Linked DNA regions of Homo sapiens. The protein of the gene in region 3 purifies or fractionates together with the protein of the main gene of each other region. This does not show direct contact. Each region holds a gene or a part of one and is shown on either strand. Other genes may lie near its edges.

Evidence for each region.
Region 1: the proteins of TMED5 (region 3) and KIF14 purify together in Homo sapiens (co-immunoprecipitation; 2 studies listed by BioGRID and IntAct, with this or other methods). This does not show direct contact.
Region 2: the proteins of TMED5 (region 3) and GOLGB1 purify together in Homo sapiens (co-immunoprecipitation; 2 studies listed by BioGRID and IntAct, with this or other methods). This does not show direct contact.

Annotation. Positions count from the first base shown.
Region 1 is NC_000001.11:200,550,948-200,554,822, forward strand, and holds the end of KIF14 (kinesin-like protein KIF14), read right to left. Parts: intron 3,660-3,875; coding exon 3,521-3,659; intron 2,821-3,520; coding exon 2,441-2,820; 3' UTR 553-2,440; downstream 1-552. UniProt on the Homo sapiens protein: Microtubule motor protein that binds to microtubules with high affinity through each tubulin heterodimer and has an ATPase activity. Plays a role in many processes like cell division, cytokinesis and also in cell proliferation and apoptosis.
Region 2 is NC_000003.12:121,662,678-121,669,800, reverse strand, and holds the end of GOLGB1 (golgin subfamily B member 1), read left to right. Parts: intron 1-445; coding exon 446-589; coding exon of another isoform or gene 590-604; intron 605-1,642; coding exon 1,643-1,740; intron 1,741-2,190; coding exon 2,191-2,325; intron 2,326-4,769; coding exon 4,770-4,875; intron 4,876-5,186; coding exon 5,187-5,321; 3' UTR 5,322-6,600; downstream 6,601-7,123. UniProt on the Homo sapiens protein: May participate in forming intercisternal cross-bridges of the Golgi complex.
Region 3 is NC_000001.11:93,177,302-93,184,743, reverse strand, and holds the start of TMED5 (transmembrane emp24 domain-containing protein 5 isoform 1 precursor), read left to right. Parts: upstream 1-4,330; 5' UTR 4,331-4,501; coding exon 4,502-4,690; intron 4,691-4,755; exon of another isoform or gene 4,756-4,831; intron 4,832-7,442. Other genes in the region: CCDC18 (coiled-coil domain-containing protein 18), read right to left, coding at 598-766, 1,249-1,382. UniProt on the Homo sapiens protein: Potential role in vesicular protein trafficking, mainly in the early secretory pathway. Required for the maintenance of the Golgi apparatus; involved in protein exchange between Golgi stacks during assembly.

The DNA.
Region 1 (3,875 bases), about 110 Mb from region 3:
GCAGAATGTTATAAATGGCATATGCCTGCACCAAGTGTGATCTTATATACATAACAAGGGTTTTGTAGCTGGTAATGAAAAGGACAGAAAATAAATTCACTAACAGTCTACTACTTGCCAGCAGTTATTCCCACATTTTTCTCACTAAGTGCTCATAGATAGATAGTCCATGAGGTGGGTATTACTTTTCTTTCTGCAGATGAAGGAATGGGAGTGAAGACAGTAACATGTCTAAGGTCATGTAGTTACTAAGCAGTCCAGCTGGGATTCACACTCCAAACGTGTGAAAAATATGTCAAACTCCAAAGCTCATGCTCTTTACACATACCACATGGTGATAAATCTATTCCAGGCATAATCAACTAAAGAGAGGCAGAACAATGTTAAAAAAAAATAGTTGTTATGGCAATATTAATATTTGTTTAGTGTTTCCTAATTATTAACTTGATTTGCAACACTAGCCTAGCTATTATCAAGGCAGAGCTATTCTGAATGAAGAGTAAAATAAACAAAGAAAATCAGTAAAATAAAAAAGCATAGACCACGAAGCAATTCTAATGCTGAAAAGATTTATTAAAGGCATTCTCTTTATAACATTTCTTGTCAGTGCACATAATTCCAATAGCAAATATTTTTTCACCATTCATTCAAATACAGTATCACAATGTGTTTAGTATAAATATGTATACAAAATTTTATAAAGACACTAAAAAGTTTCTGACCAATTAAGTCATGAGTTTACAAAGCACAAACTGAAGATTAAATACTGAATATTAAGATGAAAACTACTATACAGGTACTTTAGGAAGTTCTTCAAAGAAGTGCACCTCCCGGGAAATCCTCATATGTACATCTACACTCCAGCAAACTGCACAGGCAAAGTGCTACTTGCCAGATTATTGACTAATAAAAACACATATAGAGCTTCAGAAAGAATACAAGGTCAAATGCCAAAAATAAAAAAAGAAATGAAAGCAAATGTGCTACATTGTACCATTTTAAAGAGCTTGAAAACACCACACAAGGTTCACTAATACTGTTCTGACTGCAATGACTGTATTTACTTACAATCTCTTCCTAACAAGGAAACTATCAGATTTATTCATGGTACGAATGGCCAATTTCAACTAGTTATGCCAAATGTACAAGTAGTATCTGTAAATTCGAAAAGGGCAAATGAAAGGATCAGGTTATTTAAATGAATTCTTCTTTTTTTTTCTTCTTTTTTTTTAAATGAATTATTCTTTAGGAACTGCTCAATATCACCCAAGCATAGTTACAAAGTATCTCTTCAAATTATACATACTCTTGAGGTCAAAAACGTCAAACTATTTCCGTAATGTAAGATCCCACAAGTAGAATATTATCTTTATTACTTGATCATAAATAAAGGTTTTTTTTTAAAGCTGTGGAAAATAAGGGTCTTTAATCTTCATCAAATCATATACAAATTATTTCATTATACCTTTAACAAAACAAGCATTATCAAGAGAAGGTCCAGCCTCTGATCTCCTAATCTCATCCAACAGTTTAGTATAATTCTGGCAACATTTTATTAGTTTTAAATAATATTCATACAGCCCCCATTATGAAACACAGATAACAGGGTAAACTACTGTGCCAGCAAGCCATATTATTAATATATAATTATACTATATTTAGGTAGCTACTTATAATTTGGAAAGAAACAGGAAGCTACACCCTTGAACATACTATTCAAAATGGCAACCAGTTAACCCTTTGAGAAAAGAATTTTTGATTAACAATGCAAGTTAAGTTGTCTTAGTTAAACTTGTACAGGCCATTTCACCATAAACATCCCAGCTGTCTGAGGAGAGAGAAGGCATAGGCACAAAGGTAACTGATTGTTCAGGTTTCCACTCATGAGAAAATAACCCTTTATAAACGACTAATGAACCAACTACAGACAGTATACCAATGTTAAACACTTTAAAGATAAAAATATATTTTATTTATTTATTTATTTATTTATTTATTTATTTATTTATTTATTTTGACTAAGTCTCGTTCTGTTGCTCAGACTGGAGTAAAGTGGCATGATCTTGGCTCACTGCAACCTCTGCCTCTCAGGTTCAAGCGATCCTCCTGCCTCAGCCCCCCTAGTAGCTGGGATTACAGGCACGCGCCACCATGCCCAGCAAATTTTTGTATTTTTAGTAGAGACGGGGTTTCGCCATGTTGGCCAGGCCGGTCTCAAACTCCTGACCTTGTGATCTGCCCGCCTCCCAAAGTGCTGGGATTACAGGCGTGAGCCACTGTGTCTGGCCTTTGATAAATAGATATTTTAAAGATAAAAAGACATGGACTTTTTTGAAATATCTGTGCTGATTTCTCTTAAACTCTCCTGCATAAAGAAAATTACCGAGCAAGTGTTCTTTTTCTTTCATGGGTGGTCATAAAAGTGCCTACACATCAGTATTCACACCCACTGAATCCTACTGGGTGTGCATTCCTCTGAGCTCACTGCTGGGGATGAGCCATGGAGCTCATAGACACGCTTTGGTACACCTTTATTCTTACTGCCGTCAATCCCGCTTGATTTAGATTGTTGGTGTTCTTCTTTGGTATTTTGATTATAAGTTTCCCAGGGTTTCAACAAATCAGGGCTTTCTTCAGATTCAAAACAAAAGAGGAGAGACTTAGCTAGAGATTCTAGTTCCTGGTGGACAATGTGAGTTACTCTACTCTCATAGCTGCCAACAGAAGTAGAAGGCACACTGAAGTCACTGTAAAAATCACTGGCCAAGTTGCGAATACTTTCAACACAAGTCTGGAGAAGATTTATATCACTATGGCATCCTATATGCAAGAGAGGAGGGAAAAGTTAATTAGCCTTTTCAGTTTTCATCAGGTATTTATGACTTTTATAGACTCTAGATATCTTTTAAGTCAAAGTGACCCTATCAAAACAATTCCAAACTACTTAAGATTAGTCAACTAAAGTGTTTATTTGCTAGATGAGCACTTGGTTTTTCAGGATCTAATTATTTAGGTAGAAGTACTGATACATACATTAAGTGGGAATTTAATTATAAATACAAGTTCCTATATGGGTAACTAATATCAGTGAAGTAGCATTGGGTAGGCTTCAGTTAATGACTAAAATAATGAAAAGGTTAGAAATAAAAAGGAAAGATGTCAGCCGGGGACTGTGGCTCATGCCTGTAATCCCAGCACTTTGGGAGGCCAAGGTGGGTGAATTGTTTGAGGTCAGGAGTTCGAGACCAGCCTGGCCAACATGGTGAAACCCCATCTCTACTAAAAATACAAAAATTATCCAGGCATGGTGGCATATGCCTGTAATCCCAGCTACTTGGGAGGCTGAGGCAGGAGAATCGCTTGAACCCAGGAGTCGGAGGTTGCAGTGAGCTGAAATCGAGCCACTGCACTCCAGCCTGAGTGACAGAGCGAGACTCCATCTCAAAAAAAAAAAGGAAAGATGTCTAAGGTTCCTTAAAATATAAAATTCTGATTATAAACTCCATTTGGAGAATCATACCTTTCAGTGCAGAAATAATAATTTCAATAGCTTTCTCTAAGCAATGTTTTAACTTTAAGAATTCTGGAGCACGATTAACCATCCTCTTGAAATCTTGGTATTCAAAGTTTTCTTCTTGTACTTGCCTTCTGAAACTTTTCTGTATAAATAAAGTTAATATTTAAAATAATACATTAACAGGCTCAATGGCAGTAAGGCTCAGTCAATATGATTTTAATTGCCAGAATCTTCTCTTTAAGAAAGAGAGTTTAATTTCCTCACCAGTGCTTAACTCTATTTCTATAAGCAAGACCAAAATACAATAGTAATTACTGTTTTCAAAAGAAATCAGAATTTTCAATTAATTTTCAAAGTC
Region 2 (7,123 bases), on a different chromosome or scaffold from region 3:
CCTAGGAATATTATTGCACAGATTTTGGGGTGACAGCTCTCTCCAGCCATATTGAGTTCTGGAGATTATAGTCATTTGTTAGTACCATGAACTTTGACCCTGAGGTACTGCCTTCTCCCTCTTATGTACCCAGAATAGCCTATGTAATTAGATTGCTTATGGACTTCTGCTTCATGGTTTTTCAGTTAATGTACTGGGCACCATTTAAAAAAACAAAACAGAACAAAACAAAAAAACCTTTCTGCTACTCCTCCAGAATTGTTTTCTGTCTTGGTCAAAAAAAAATTATGCTTTTTCCAACTTTGAAGGCACACAAAGTGCTATTGTTGCTGTTGCTGAAACAAAGGTCTTCCATAGGAAAATTAGATCCTGAAAACTCAGAACATTTCACCTCAGCACTGCTTACAGTACTGCAGGATGATGCTTATCCTCGCCTCTGTTTCAGTTCTCTCAGCTACTGGAAGAGAAAAACACCCTTTCCATTCAGCTCTGCGATACCAGTCAGAGTCTTCGTGAGAACCAGCAGCACTATGGTGACCTTTTAAATCACTGTGCAGTCTTGGAGAAGCAGGTTCAAGAGCTGCAGGCGGTGAGTAAAGAGAAGGTGAGAGACTGGGAGAAGTGTGATGAAATTTAGTGCAAGTGGTGAAGCACTACAGAGCAGTATGGAAGAAGTTAATGTAATTAGGGGTCAGGGAAGAAAGTGGGAGAGAAGAAAGAGTTAATTGAGATGGGAATAAGGTCTGAGAAAAATTACAGTGAAGCAATTAGAAGAAAAAAGATCAGTGAGATGGTGGGAGAGAAATCAAAACATGAGTAGGAAACAGTGATGACTGAGACATTTGGTACTCTGAAACAGAGAAAGTGTTGATTTTGCTTTAAGTTATAAGAAAATTGTAGGAAACTTTGGATCTGAGAACAAAACAGGCAGCACTGTTGACAGCCAGGGAGAGGAGTACAGCATTGAAGTTGGAGGAGACTGAGAATTAGTATGGAGACGTATAGGATACGGAGGAGGAAAAGGGGGTTGGGAGGGGCTGGACAAGCAAGGGAAGGATCAAAGTGGCTTCTGGAAAAGCCATAAGCATCCACAGCAGACTTAACTTTTTTTTTTTTTTTTTTTTTTTTGAGACGGAGTCTCGCTCTGTCGCCCAGGCTGGAATGCAGTAGCACGATCTCGGCTCACTGCAACCTCCACCTCCTGGGTTCAAGCAATTCTCTGCCTCAGCCTCCCGAGTTGCTGGGATTACAGGCGCCTGCCACCACACCCGGCTAATTTTTTGTATTTTTAGTGGAGACAGGGTTTCACCATCTTGGCCAGGCTGGTCTTGAACTCCTGATCTTGTGATCCACCCACCTCGGCCTCCCAAAGTGCTGGGATTACAGGCTTGAGCCACGGCGCCCGGCCCAGACTTAACTTTTAAGAGGAGAAATTCAAGAATGAGAATCTGGGAGAAAAATCTAATCAAGACAAGAGTTTTATGTAGGTGAGTAATCTGCTAGAGCAGAAGCTTCTCACTTCTAAATTTGGACTTGAGAATTATAAGCGGGGATAGTCCTCTGTAAACGAGCTCTCATTTTGCTCAAATACACTTTCTTAAGAGCTTTCATCACTGAATTACTAAGCTTATTCTTCTTCCAGGGGCCACTAAATATAGATGTTGCTCCAGGAGCTCCCCAGGAAAAGAATGGAGTTCACAGAAAGAGTGACCCTGAGGAACTAAGGGAACCGCAGCAAAGGTAGGGGAGTGGCTCTCTAAACCCTGGAGCATACACCAGAGTCCAGAAATTGGGCAGTAATCTAGATTTAACTGGAGTCCTTTATATGGATTTAATATGTCTTGTTATCTTATTAGCCTCACAGAAGTGATGTGAGGATCAAATAGTAACAATAATAACTAACATTTGTGTGTGAAAAGTTTGTAAAACAAAAAGAGCAACACCAACACACACACACCACTAACAACTACTCTATGATAGTAAAATGAAAGATAATCAGTTCCTGAAATTTCTTTAGGTATTTTCTGCAGCTTCATTTAATCCCTCTACAGCTTTGCTTTTAAAATATTGTGTTTAGACAAGCTTCTATGGATTTTCTTGCTTTACAACCTTATGAAGACTTTGAATCCCTTGTATTAGCAACTGTTTTCTGCATCTGATGATGCTTTTTGTTTTCCTCTCATCCTAAAGCTTTTCTGAAGCTCAGCAGCAGCTATGCAACACCAGACAGGAAGTGAATGAATTAAGGAAGCTGCTGGAAGAAGAACGAGACCAAAGAGTGGCTGCTGAGAATGCTCTCTCTGTGGCCGAGGAGCAGATCAGACGGTAAAGGCTGAAGGAGATAGCCTCTGTTCCCTTCCGATCCTTTCTGATCAAACTCATGTACATTTCCTGCCAGACTTAGGATTTCTTAAGATCTTTTTCTCATCTTGAGGTAGTTGCTGCAATGAGTTTACCAACATTGTGGTCACCCAAGAGAACACTGTACTTTTGGAGTATAAGAGAGTCAGTGTTTTCTAAAACAGTTGTTCTTAGAGAATAATAATGATATCTACCATTACTGAAAGATATTTTATTTCACCCTAACCATAACTATATGAGGTAGGTGTTGGGTTCTCTAGAGGACCAAATAAGTGACAACCTCATTTTCTACCTGAGATCTGAATCCATGGAAATCTTTTTTAAAAGATTAAAAGATTGAGAGATTAAAAGACTGCTTTATAAATGATGTTAAAAGAATGTAGCTTTTTATTTGTTGGCAAATGCACTTCCTAACCCTGAACTTCCCCTCCCAGTCACAGACAATGTTGGGCCAAGGTAGACCTCCTTCACAGAAAATCCTGCTCTTGCCAAACAAGAGTATTGGAATAACAGAGTGAACTGTGCTTCCTATGAGCAGTTTGCTCCAAGTGTAATTTGGAAGGGCAGAGCTACACATCCCTAGTTCCTTATTCTCATCAAAAGAATCACTATGCATGAGAGGATAGAGAGTTGCTACAAGTATTTTGCTGCTGGAAGTCCCTTTCCACGGAAAATATCGTTAAAAGCAGGCACTTTTATTATATTTTGGGAGAAAGCCACCTATGTATATGATCACTTTCCTCAGAGAATGACATTTCTGATATTAATGCTTTCTTGTAAAGTTTATGTGGCAGAGGTGACAGCCCCATTGAGCAGGTCTTACTTGAGATACCTTTCTTTCCAATCCAACATATTCACAACTTCTTAATTTTCATCACCTATTCAGGCCTTGATATGCAGCTTTGAGGGTGGGCCAGCTTTGCTTAATGCCTTGTGTGGTGTCTTGCCATCTCTGCCGAGCATTTTCAGGCCTGTGCCCTCATGACTGTTTCTCTTCTACTTGCTATTGAATTGTTTAGACCGGTGAAACCTGGCCAATGGGGAGGTTGATCTCCCTCTTGTGTAACTAACCTGTCCCAAACCAACTGAGACTGCATGTGTGGGATGATGACTCTTGAGCCTGTGGGCAAGCCGTATTAATTCAAGCCACAATTCCCTCTTTAGCTCTGATGCAGAATGGAAGTTGGGGTAGCTAATTAAGGGCTGCCTGCCTAGTCCAGGTACTGCCATTGTAATGTTAGAATCTCACATGTACTCTAAAGAGCAGGTGGAACTCAGTGGCCCTCCAGTTTAAAGGCAGCCAGTACCATCTTCCTCATCAATACCTACAGACTTCTCATCCTTCCTCAGCATAGCCTACATTGACAGACTGACCTCCATAGTAACAGACCATGCTGTTCCAGATCAAAGCTGCTTCTGAAAAGCTTATCACATGGAGGAATAGACACAGAAGGTGTATTTTTTAGTCAGCCTGGCTCTCAGGAGGGAAGCAGGAAAGAAGGAGCTAGGCTGTGCATGCTCAGTTCTCTTTCTAGACTCACAAATTGGATTAAGGTGTTTCTTCTCTCCCGGGGAAAAGAATGTGTCCTGCAGAGAGCCCAAGAATATTAAACTAATAGATATCCTTTCAGAAGGAGAAAACACAAAGAGTAGAGGCAAGAGTTTCATCCTCTCTTCCCTATTGAAAAAGTTCATCCCTATAGGCAAATGCTTGATCAAACGTGCTGTGTTACATGCAGCTCCTTTGTTTGTTTGACATAACCATTGAGTGAGTAATGGCAGCTTCTTCATTAAATGGAGAAGTTCCAGTATTAAATAAGCAAATCAGCAAAAACTGAGCCAGAAGGCAGTGGAGACTGCCAATTCAATTTAATTTTTTTTAGTTCAATTTAATTTTTAAAACCCCACAGAAATCTTCTTTGGATGCTTTTGCCTATTAGCCTTTAATAAAAGAAAAAAATGTAATGAGTTTCTCCAAGTCAGGTGTGGTGTGGTGGAAAAAAGAACGTGAGGCTTGAAAGACAAAGTTGGGTATTGAATTCTGGCTCTGCCGCTTACTGGCTGTGCCGCCATGGGCAAGTAATTTAACCTCTGTAAGCCTTAGCACTTTGAAGATAATAAGACCAACCTCAGAACCTGAGGATTAAATGTATGTAAAGCACCCAGCCTAGAGCCTGATACATAGTGAGTAGGCAGTCAATTCCTGATAGTTATTGTCACATTTTGCTGCTGCTGAAGGAAACGTATCTGCTGGTACCCCCCTTGCATGGGTTTGGGTTTATGGGAGCAGCTTTTGCTGCAAGTCTCCTCCTGTGCTGCATTGTGTGGCAGGATGACTGGGAAGACTGGGCCTGATCAGCCTCTCATGCTATGAACCAATGCTATGCCTCTTTTTTTTCTCAACTCAGGTTAGAGCACAGTGAATGGGACTCTTCCCGGACTCCTATCATTGGCTCCTGTGGCACTCAGGAGCAGGCACTGTTAATAGATCTTACAAGCAACAGTTGTCGAAGGGTAAGAGGAAGAAGGATAAAGAGAGGGTGTTTTATTATCTGACAGGGCTGGCTATACTGGGGGCAAGGAGCTGAGGAGAAGGAATGTGGAAGTCCAGCCACTGAGCAGCGAATGAGTCTAAGGCTGGAAGGGCGTGGAAGATTAGAACCTGGTGGAATTTGCCAAGTTGTTGACTCTGAGGCAACTTTCCTCTCAGAATACCCCTTTCTACAGTGGTTGGGTCAGCTTTGCTTAAGTGCAAGACTAGTAGGAGGGAAAGCAACATAGCCCTATAGGGTGAAAACTCTCTGACTTTCACATTTTTCTTTCAGACCCGGAGTGGCGTTGGATGGAAGCGAGTCCTGCGTTCACTCTGTCATTCACGGACCCGAGTGCCACTTCTAGCAGCCATCTACTTTCTAATGATTCATGTCCTGCTCATTCTGTGTTTTACGGGCCATCTATAGACTTAGTTGTTACTCTTTGGACCACTCCCCTCAAAACTTGGAATTCTCTCACCTCTAACATCAGAACATCAATTCCAGTGGAACAGTCTTCCCATTTACAGGTCTTCTCTCCAACTCTTCACGGAAAGTGCCTGCAAAAACAGAGGTGGATACGAGGACAGGTTGGAGCTGCAGGGACTGGCGAGTCTGCTTTCTTCTACTGCCCTGAGCCTGAACGCTTCTGCTTAATCTGAGAATCACATTTGGTTTGTTGAGCCTAATATTTGTTGAGATTTTGCAGGACCCTGATCTTTTGTGGTCCTGTAAAAGATACTGAGGAATGTCTTTCAGCCAAGCCAAGAGGATGGTTTCAATAAACCTAATAATCTGAAGTTCAGTATCATTTTGATTGATAACTTTCTTTGCCTTGTTTGCCTGTATTTTCTCCTGTTTCAGGGGGAAGGTGGCTCTGCCATAAACAGAGTTCAGGGAAATGAACATGTCACCTCATAGGACATCTGATTTAGGTCTCTTGCAGAATAGGGTGGTGAAAGCTGAAGGAACTCCCTAGGGGTTTTAGCTGTTAGATCACATGGGAGGACAGCATCTTCTTCCCTGCCAATTTCAGATATAATTGGAGGGAGAATTTCAGGTCTTAGACTATAAGGATAGAATCCCTTTGCTTTTGCCCTTGATCACATGTATACTAAGGTATTAAGTGGCCCAAGTCTTTCCTTTCACCAAAGGGCAGGGAGAAGTGTCTATGGACAGCAGGGTTCCAATTCTTGTCATTCCAGGAATATCTGAATATTCCTGGAATGTGGACCCTGAGACAGTGCTCAGGGGCCACTGGGAGCCAATATTAGGCATTGACTCTCAGCCAGGAGTCTGACTGGTCTAACACCACACTGCAACTCCTGACCTCTTGAAGTACTAAGCTACTTTGCTGTTAGTGACAGTTATTACAGTTTCTCAGCCCCATTGTCTCTGCCCTCTGTGGCAATGGAAGGAGAATATAGAGAAGACAAAATTAAATATAGATAGACCTGAGAAGGACAGCCAGGATAGAATTCCATTTGTGCCTATTCCCTGCCTCCCCTCCCCTCCCCCATCCTACCAGTTGGTTATTTTCTCATTGCATACGTGATGTGTTCACTGCCTAGCCTCTCCCTAAAGAAGAGAGAAGACAAGTGGGCTGACTGATCTGCTCTAAATCTACTGTGGTGATTAAATCTTGGTTACAACATCCTGGGAAGTTTCCTGAACAACTGTAAAATAATAAAATTATTTTCAGAATGAAGAGTTTGTGTGTATGTGTGTGTACGTGTGAGTGAATGGATATGTGCACAGGTGTTTCGGTACCTGTGTTTGCATGCTGGGGGGTGGAAGGTGGGTAAGGGAAGTAGGGAAAGGAGGTAGCCAGGAATGGTTATAGGGGTAGAAAGCTCTACATATTCAGGCTTTCTTCTCACTGGCCAATATCAGTGACAGCTGCATGCATTTTTCCAGCCTTAGCTGCTAGACCCCAGGTGATGAATGCAGTGAGGAAATTCTATCCTAATACTGAACCAAATAAGCTGGGCCTTAGGGCATGAAATTGATGCAGGTCCATGCATGGTCCTGGGAGAACTCTTGTCTGGCACATAGTGAAAACATTAGGCCCCTAGGGATCCCTCTGGGTGGGAATGGGAGAAGAGAAGCTTAATAGCATGTAGCAGGTTAGATAGGCATTATTATGTTTTGTTTTGTTTTGTTGGGTTTTTTTTGAGACCGAGTTTCACTCTTTCGCTCAGGCTGGAGTGCAGTGGCACAATCTCAACTCA
Region 3 (7,442 bases):
TATCTGTGTATATACATGTAGGGAGTCGGGGGAACAAAGAATAGGAAGAGAGTGTAAAAGGAGATAAAAGAGTTGAGTGAGGAAGAGGGATAAATGCAGGGAGATAAATATGTGATAGAATAAGAAAAAGGAAGAGAGTTTCAGACCAAGCAAAGATCTCTAACATCATTGACAAAATAGATAATGAAAAGAGAACAGTGCCATACTATCCAAAGTACTTGATCCAGGCTTTAAATGGTGGGTATACCTTAACTACTTAATAAACAATTGATTACCTATTATGTATAAGATGTAGTGTTAAAATCAAGGGGATTATAATTTACTTAAGAAGACATTTAACTGCAAAAAGGTAATAAATATGTAAGTTTAAAAGTAGAGTAATACACCAAGATAACTACTTTCTTGTTAGAACATAAAAAGAACAATTATATTTAAATTCTTGAGTACCATAGTAAAAGATTATGGAAACCATGAATAAGGTATTTAAAGAAAAAATTTTTTTCTTTAATTTAATTTTAAAATTAAAAAAAATTTTTTTTAAGTAGACAGGCCTAAAACCAAAACTTCTTTTAACTAGATAGGTCTAAAAACAATAACCTTATCTCTTGGCTTTTTTTGAAAATCAGTGCTGCTACCAGATATTTTACAGACGTTTTCATAAGGTGAATAATTCAAAAGTCCAGGGTGGCTAGGCTGAACATCCAAAATTAGCTTTTCAGACCTTGAAGGATTAGGGGCATAATCAGAATTTTCACTTGGACTAACACTAGAGAAAAAAGAAAAAACATATTTCAGTTCTTGGATAGTTTATTCACTACAAATTGCTATACATTAAATAAGAAAATAGAAAACCTGAAATGCTGCTAAGCAGATTCACAGTTATGAACATAAGGCAATGTTTCCACTAAATTTTAAATAAATCATAATTACTTTTAAACTAGCAAACTGTATTTCTAAAGCCTCTACGCTAAGATTACTTAAGATTCAAAAAAATCATAAAAAATTAGTAAAGCCCAAAATATATATTTTATACTGAGTTCTAATACACTGAAAGTGTTTTTAATATGCAAAGAGGCTTCTCTAATATTCCTTATTTTTCCCTAAACTGAAAGTTACATTAAAAAGTATAAGAAAATTATTTCTTATTCCAGAGGCAGGTTAGAAACAATACATCATAATGAAATCCACACATTTTACATTGATGTATTTAAGGCACAGTGAATTCTATATGTGATTTTACTTACTTACCTGGATAACTCTTCCCCTAAACTCTGCAAACTCCATTCTGTTATCTTCAGTTCATGTCTTAAGGAAGCAACATTTGCAAGCAAACTTTCCTCTTCATTGTCTTTATTATAGTAGTCTGATGAACTAGATTCCATTTCTTAAAAAAAAAATGAATTTCTTGTACCTTGTCTGAAAGATTCTGTAGTTTCAGTCAAAATACTCACATGAATAGAATTTAACTCATTAGTTTTCTATTTTAAATGTTGTGAAATCTTTCATGGTGGTTTAAAACAAAACAAAAAATCAATAATAATGAATTTATCTGTAGTGTAAAGCCATAAAGGAATTCAATACAATTTCAATGAATGAATTTTTCATTTTAGCCAGGGTCTAGTTATTATAGTTCTCTTTTGTAAGCATACCTGATCTTCCTAACAATTGTTAATTATTTTCATTACATGTTAAGGAAACTAAGAATCAGACATTAAATAACTTGCTCAAAGTCACACAAACTGTAAATGGTGAAATCAAGATTTGAATCCAAGTCATTAGGATGCAAAGACCATTAAATTATGTCGCATTGTAGCTTTATTACATATTACATATCAATTTCAATATGAGGTGTTTGAACTTTCATAATTACATTACAAGTACTGGACATCTGATTAAATGGTATCATTACATTCATATTTTGTTAGAAGGGAATTTATTACCAGATAAAAGCTGTCTCCTCCTCCTACGCCCAATAGTTATAAAATTTTAAAAAGACACATTTACAAGTCACAACCACAGGGATCAAAATAACATTTGGCAGGTCAACTCATAGAAATGAAGAAAAGCTTTTGTTTCTTCAGTGGATGAGTATCTCTAGGGTTGTGAAACTACTAAATTTCTTTGCATATAAAAATCACAATAAAGCATCACATTTTATTATTGTAATTAATACAATAAAAAACTAAAGCTTTATAATCTCCACTACTACAGAGCTTTCTGCGCAATCTTAAAATTACATTCCTCTTTCAGATCCCATTTACCTTTTTCACTGTAGCATCTCCTTCAACGCCCTTCTTAGCATTCTGATCCCATCCCAAGTTCCAAAAGGTTAAAAGTCCTGTGCATTACGTTCAGGACCGCAATGTACTTAGAGAAGCTCAATATTTTGAATGAATTAACGAATACTAAACTGTCCTTCCTTCCCTCATCCAGTTAGAATGGTATGTTACATTTATTCCCCACTCAAAAATTCTCAGATGTAGGGAGGAAGATTAAAAAGAAAACTCCCACCTTATGGAAAGAAAGTGGCAGGAAATTAAATGAGATACTATGTAATCTTAATAGACAAACTGGTTCTATCCTCTTTCCCTTTTTTGTTTCCACAAATTTGCTTCTGCTTAAGTGACAAGACTCTCGCAGACAAGTCAATAAATCAGGTCCCCATCCTGCTTTACCTATTCAACATCTCTAGCTCTCTGTAGGATGGTGAAGGAGAAAAGGGTAGAGAAAATTGGGCAAATTCTATAATACCATTTGGTACTATATATTTCATCTTAAATCAGGTTTTAGTTCAACATCTGTGTATTGCCATGCAAGAAATAACTCCCAGTCCGGGCGCGGTGGCTCACGCCGGTAATCCCAGCACTTTGGGAGGTCAAGGCGGGTGGATCACGAGGTCAAAAGTTAAAGACCAACCTGGCCAAGATGGTGAAACCCCGTATCTACTAAAAATACAAAAAAATTAGCCGGGGGTGGTGGCGAGCGCCTGTAATCTCAGCTACTCGGGAGGCTGAGGCAGAGAATTGCTTGAACCTGGGAGGCGGAGGTTGCAGTGAGCCGAGATCGCGCCACTGCACTCCAGCCTGGGCGACAGAGTGAGACTCGGTCTCAAAAAAAAAAGAAAGAACTCCCTAACTCTTCTGCAGTAGCAATGAATATATTTGATACTAAAATGTTTTCATTTTCCTAGTGGGACATTTACTGTCAAATGAATGTCCTTAACTTCAATTTACAGTAGTTACCCAAAAAAGGCTATCTTCACTGACTATGCATACCTAGAAAAGCACATCATCCTACTCACCGACCTTAACAACATCATCTTTCGGCCCTAATTAACAATGTGTTTGTAGGTTTGCACACGCACACCCATCAAACGAAGGACAAGTGTTCTTTTATACCCTATGTATGTGATACAATGGGCTGTAGTCGAAAAAGATTCCTCATTTTGGAAAGAAGTCATAACTTTATGTAGTAGTCTCCTGTCTCAAGATCGCTTGACACAGCTAATCTTACATCCGTCTGAAAGAAGCGGGGGCGGGGGTGGGGGACGGAAGTGACAGTTTCCTCTTTTTTTTTTTTTTTTTAATTTTATAGAGACAGTGGCTCGCCATATTGCCAAGGCTGGCCTCGAACTCCTGGGCTCAAGCAATCCTTCCGCCTCGACATCCCAAAGTGCTGAGGTAACAGGCGTAAGCCACTGCGCCCGGCCTCCTATTTTTCATCAAATAAAATACAACCGTTCAGAGCAGCATGCTCAGCAACCACGAGGACCAGTCCCAGCGCATCCAAGGTGCCGGGAGGGAAAGGAACAGAACTCCCCCAGGTAAGCCGGTTTCCCCACGCCAAGGCGCAGTCGCTCACCACCCAAATCGTCGCTGGGGAGAGACCCACCCGGCGACTGCGCGCTTCGCACTCGAGTCTGCGTTAGGAAGCCTCTGACCCTTTCCCGGGCCCCTGCGCGTGGAAGCCTCGGACACAACTCGGAGAACCAGCGAACCCCGGCAGCACAGAATTCGAACCGCCGCGGGAGCCGTTGGGACGCGCCTACCCGGTCACTGCCCCGCCCCGGCGCAGACTGCGTGAGGCGCCGCCGAAGGCGCGGGGCTTGCCGGGGATCGTGGTCGGCGAGCGCGCCCGAGCCCACTAGCGGAGCCCGCCCGGGACTACATTTCCCACAATTACCGCCATGATGCCCATTGGTGGGGGAAGCCATGGGAACCGGAGGCCGTCAGGGGGAGAGGCGGGCGGCGCTCACGCCTGGCCTGAGGGGGCCGAGACTGAGGCGGTTGCGGAATAGGACTGCTAGCCCCGCCCAGAGTCCCTACCCTTTGGAGAACTGCGCTTCTCTTTCGGAGGGAGTGTTCGCCGCCGCCGCGGCCGCCACCTGGAGTTTCTTCAGACTCCAGATTTCCCTGTCAACCACGAGGAGTCCAGAGAGGAAACGCGGAGCGGAGACAACAGTACCTGACGCCTCTTTCAGCCCGGGATCGCCCCAGCAGGGATGGGCGACAAGATCTGGCTGCCCTTCCCCGTGCTCCTTCTGGCCGCTCTGCCTCCGGTGCTGCTGCCTGGGGCGGCCGGCTTCACACCTTCCCTCGATAGCGACTTCACCTTTACCCTTCCCGCCGGCCAGAAGGAGTGCTTCTACCAGCCCATGCCCCTGAAGGCCTCGCTGGAGATCGAGTACCAAGTAAGTGCGGAGGATAAACCAGCCTCCTTCCTTTAACCCAGCTGCACTGCGTTGTCGCCTCTCACCCGTTTAGAAACTTCTGGTGGACGGCCCTGGTGGTGAAGAGGCGAGGGCCGTTCAGGAAGCCAGCCCGCTCCGCGCAGGCGCGCGAGGCGAGGCGAGGCTCTCGCTGGGGCCGGGGACCCAGAACTTAGGCTGGACCTGGAATTGATGACTACCCGCCTTCTCCCCTTTCCTCCGGTGGGAAGGAGGCCAGAACTGGTGATGTCGCTGGCTTTTCTCTTTGTTTCCTAATTCGCCCACTGCTTTTCTTAGCCACTACACGCTCTCATACTGAGAATTTCACAATGCAGAACTGATACACGTTCTCCTTCATCATTGGACAAGGTGATGACACTTGTTTGAATCACCCCCACCCCTTTCACACAGTTCAGATGTTACAAATCACTGTCTTTGCTTCAGTTAAGGGTTTTTGGATTATGATCGTGTAATTGGCATTAAGCCCGATTTTGAAATTTTTTGGAAGACGCTGTTGCTATATTTAATGATACATTTCCGTTTAAGTTATATATCCATTATTTTCAAAAGATCAAATCGTATATTAAAACTTTATAACCTTTCTTTTCATTTTTTCATTGAGCATTGTAAGCATTTCCCTCGTGTCATTGTTTTTTTTTTTTTTTTTTGAGACGGAGTCTCGCTTTGTTGCTCAAGCTAGAGTTGGAGTGCAGTGGCGCTATCTCGGCTCATTGCAACCTCCGCCTCCCGGGTTCAAGCGATTCTCCTGCCTCAGCCTTCCGAGTAGCTGAGATTACAGACGTGCGCCACCATGCCCAGCTAATTTTTGTATTTTTAGTAGAGACGGGGTTTCACCATGTTGGCCAGGCTGGTCTCGAACTCCCGACCTCAGGCGATCCACCCGCCTCGGCCTCCCAAAGTGCTGGGATTACAGGCGTGAGCCACCATGCCTAGCATGTTTTCTTTTTAGTATCTGCATAATATTCTTGCTGGGAATTACCTTATTTTATGTAGTCATGGTGGTAGGGGGTAATTTCTTAGAAGAAATCTTGTTCGTTCCACAGCAAATTCCGATGTTTTCAGGTAGCAGTACAGGGGGGAAAGAAAAGGCATTGATGTGTTTCATCTTTCAGTTTTTTAGAAGTTAATTATAATCATCAAATGTTAATTTTTTAAGTTGATGTAGAGAATTGTTTTTAAATACCAGGTACTGTCACATACAGAGCAAAATAAAAAGTTGTAGAATTTTTTATACGATGGAACTTTAGGATTAAGTTGTATATAGATACACACGATAAGCACAGAGAATAAAATATCTAAAATCACATAGTGAGCAAAACTGAGGCTAAAACTCAGTGTTTCTTGATTTCCAGTAAAGTTCAAAAGTTCAACATTTACTGAACAGTTAACACGTGCCAGGAATTGTGCATGGAGGTGGGGGAGACGGAGGGGGAGCTGGGTTGTGCGGGATGTAGGTAAAAGAGAAAGAAAGAATCCCTCTTCTCAAAGAGCTTAATAAAGGTTACTGGCTCATAAACAGGTAATTTCAATAAAGGATGGCTAAGTACCAGTAGAGGAGGGTCACTTCTAAGGGTTTCAGAAGAGGATTCCTGGAGAAAATAAAATTTAATCCAGAAAGATGCTTAATTGAGACGAAAATGCCAGGAACAAGGGGCATTTCAGAAAAGCGAACAAAAAGATCCATAGTTCTTAAAATACATAGTGTAAGTGGGGATGGTTAGTGTGTAGTGGACACTACAAGTACTGAGTTTGTATTAGACTTTAAGACATATAAAGTCTAGGGTGGGAGTAGCAGAAAAGGACATCGGAGAGGCCAGAAGGCTGGGGTCATTAAGCATGAATCATAGCCTTGTTTGCCGTGCTGAGTAGGTTTTCCTTAATTTTGTACAAGTCCATTTAAGATTTAAGCAGATCACTGGATGCAGTGTGGAAAATGGATTTAAGGAGAGCAAAATTAGAGTCAAGGAAACTAACTAGAGGGCTAGTGAAATAGTCTAGATAAGAAAACAATTTGTATTAATAAAAAAATCTTCAGTATTTACACACATATTAGGGAAGATATCTATTTTAACTACTGTCCTCTTATAGTTAAGAGCACCAGCTCTTAACCTTAGCCTGGGTTCAAATCTTGACTCTGCCTACTTAAAACTTATGTGATCTTCTCACTTGTAAAATAGAGATAATAATTGTAACTACATCATAGAGTTGATTTGAAAAAGCATGAGTTAATAAATGCTCATATTCAGTGTAAAGTAGTCTATTAAAAAATGCTCATAGATCATCCCTGACACATAGTAAATAATCAATGAATGTTAATTTTACATTTATACCTCTATAGTTATGTAGCTGGCTTGGTTTAGCTTTATTCTTTACATCTTTAGTCACTCTTAAAGGGACTGTTCCTTTTTTTTTTTTTTTTTTTTTTTTTTTGAGACAGAGTCTCCCTCTGTCACTCTGTTACCCAGGCTGGAGTGCAGTGGCGCGACCTTGGCCCACAGCAACCTTCATCTCCCGAGTTCAAGTGATTCTCCCGCCTCAGCTTCCCGAGTAGCTGGATTACAGGCATGTGCCACCACACCCAGCTAATTTTTGTATTTTTAGTAGAGACGGGGTTTCACTATGTTGGCCAGACTGGTCCCAAACTCCTGATCTCAAGTGATCTGCCAGCCTCAGCCTCCAAAGTGCTGGGATTATAGGTGTGAGCCACCGCGCC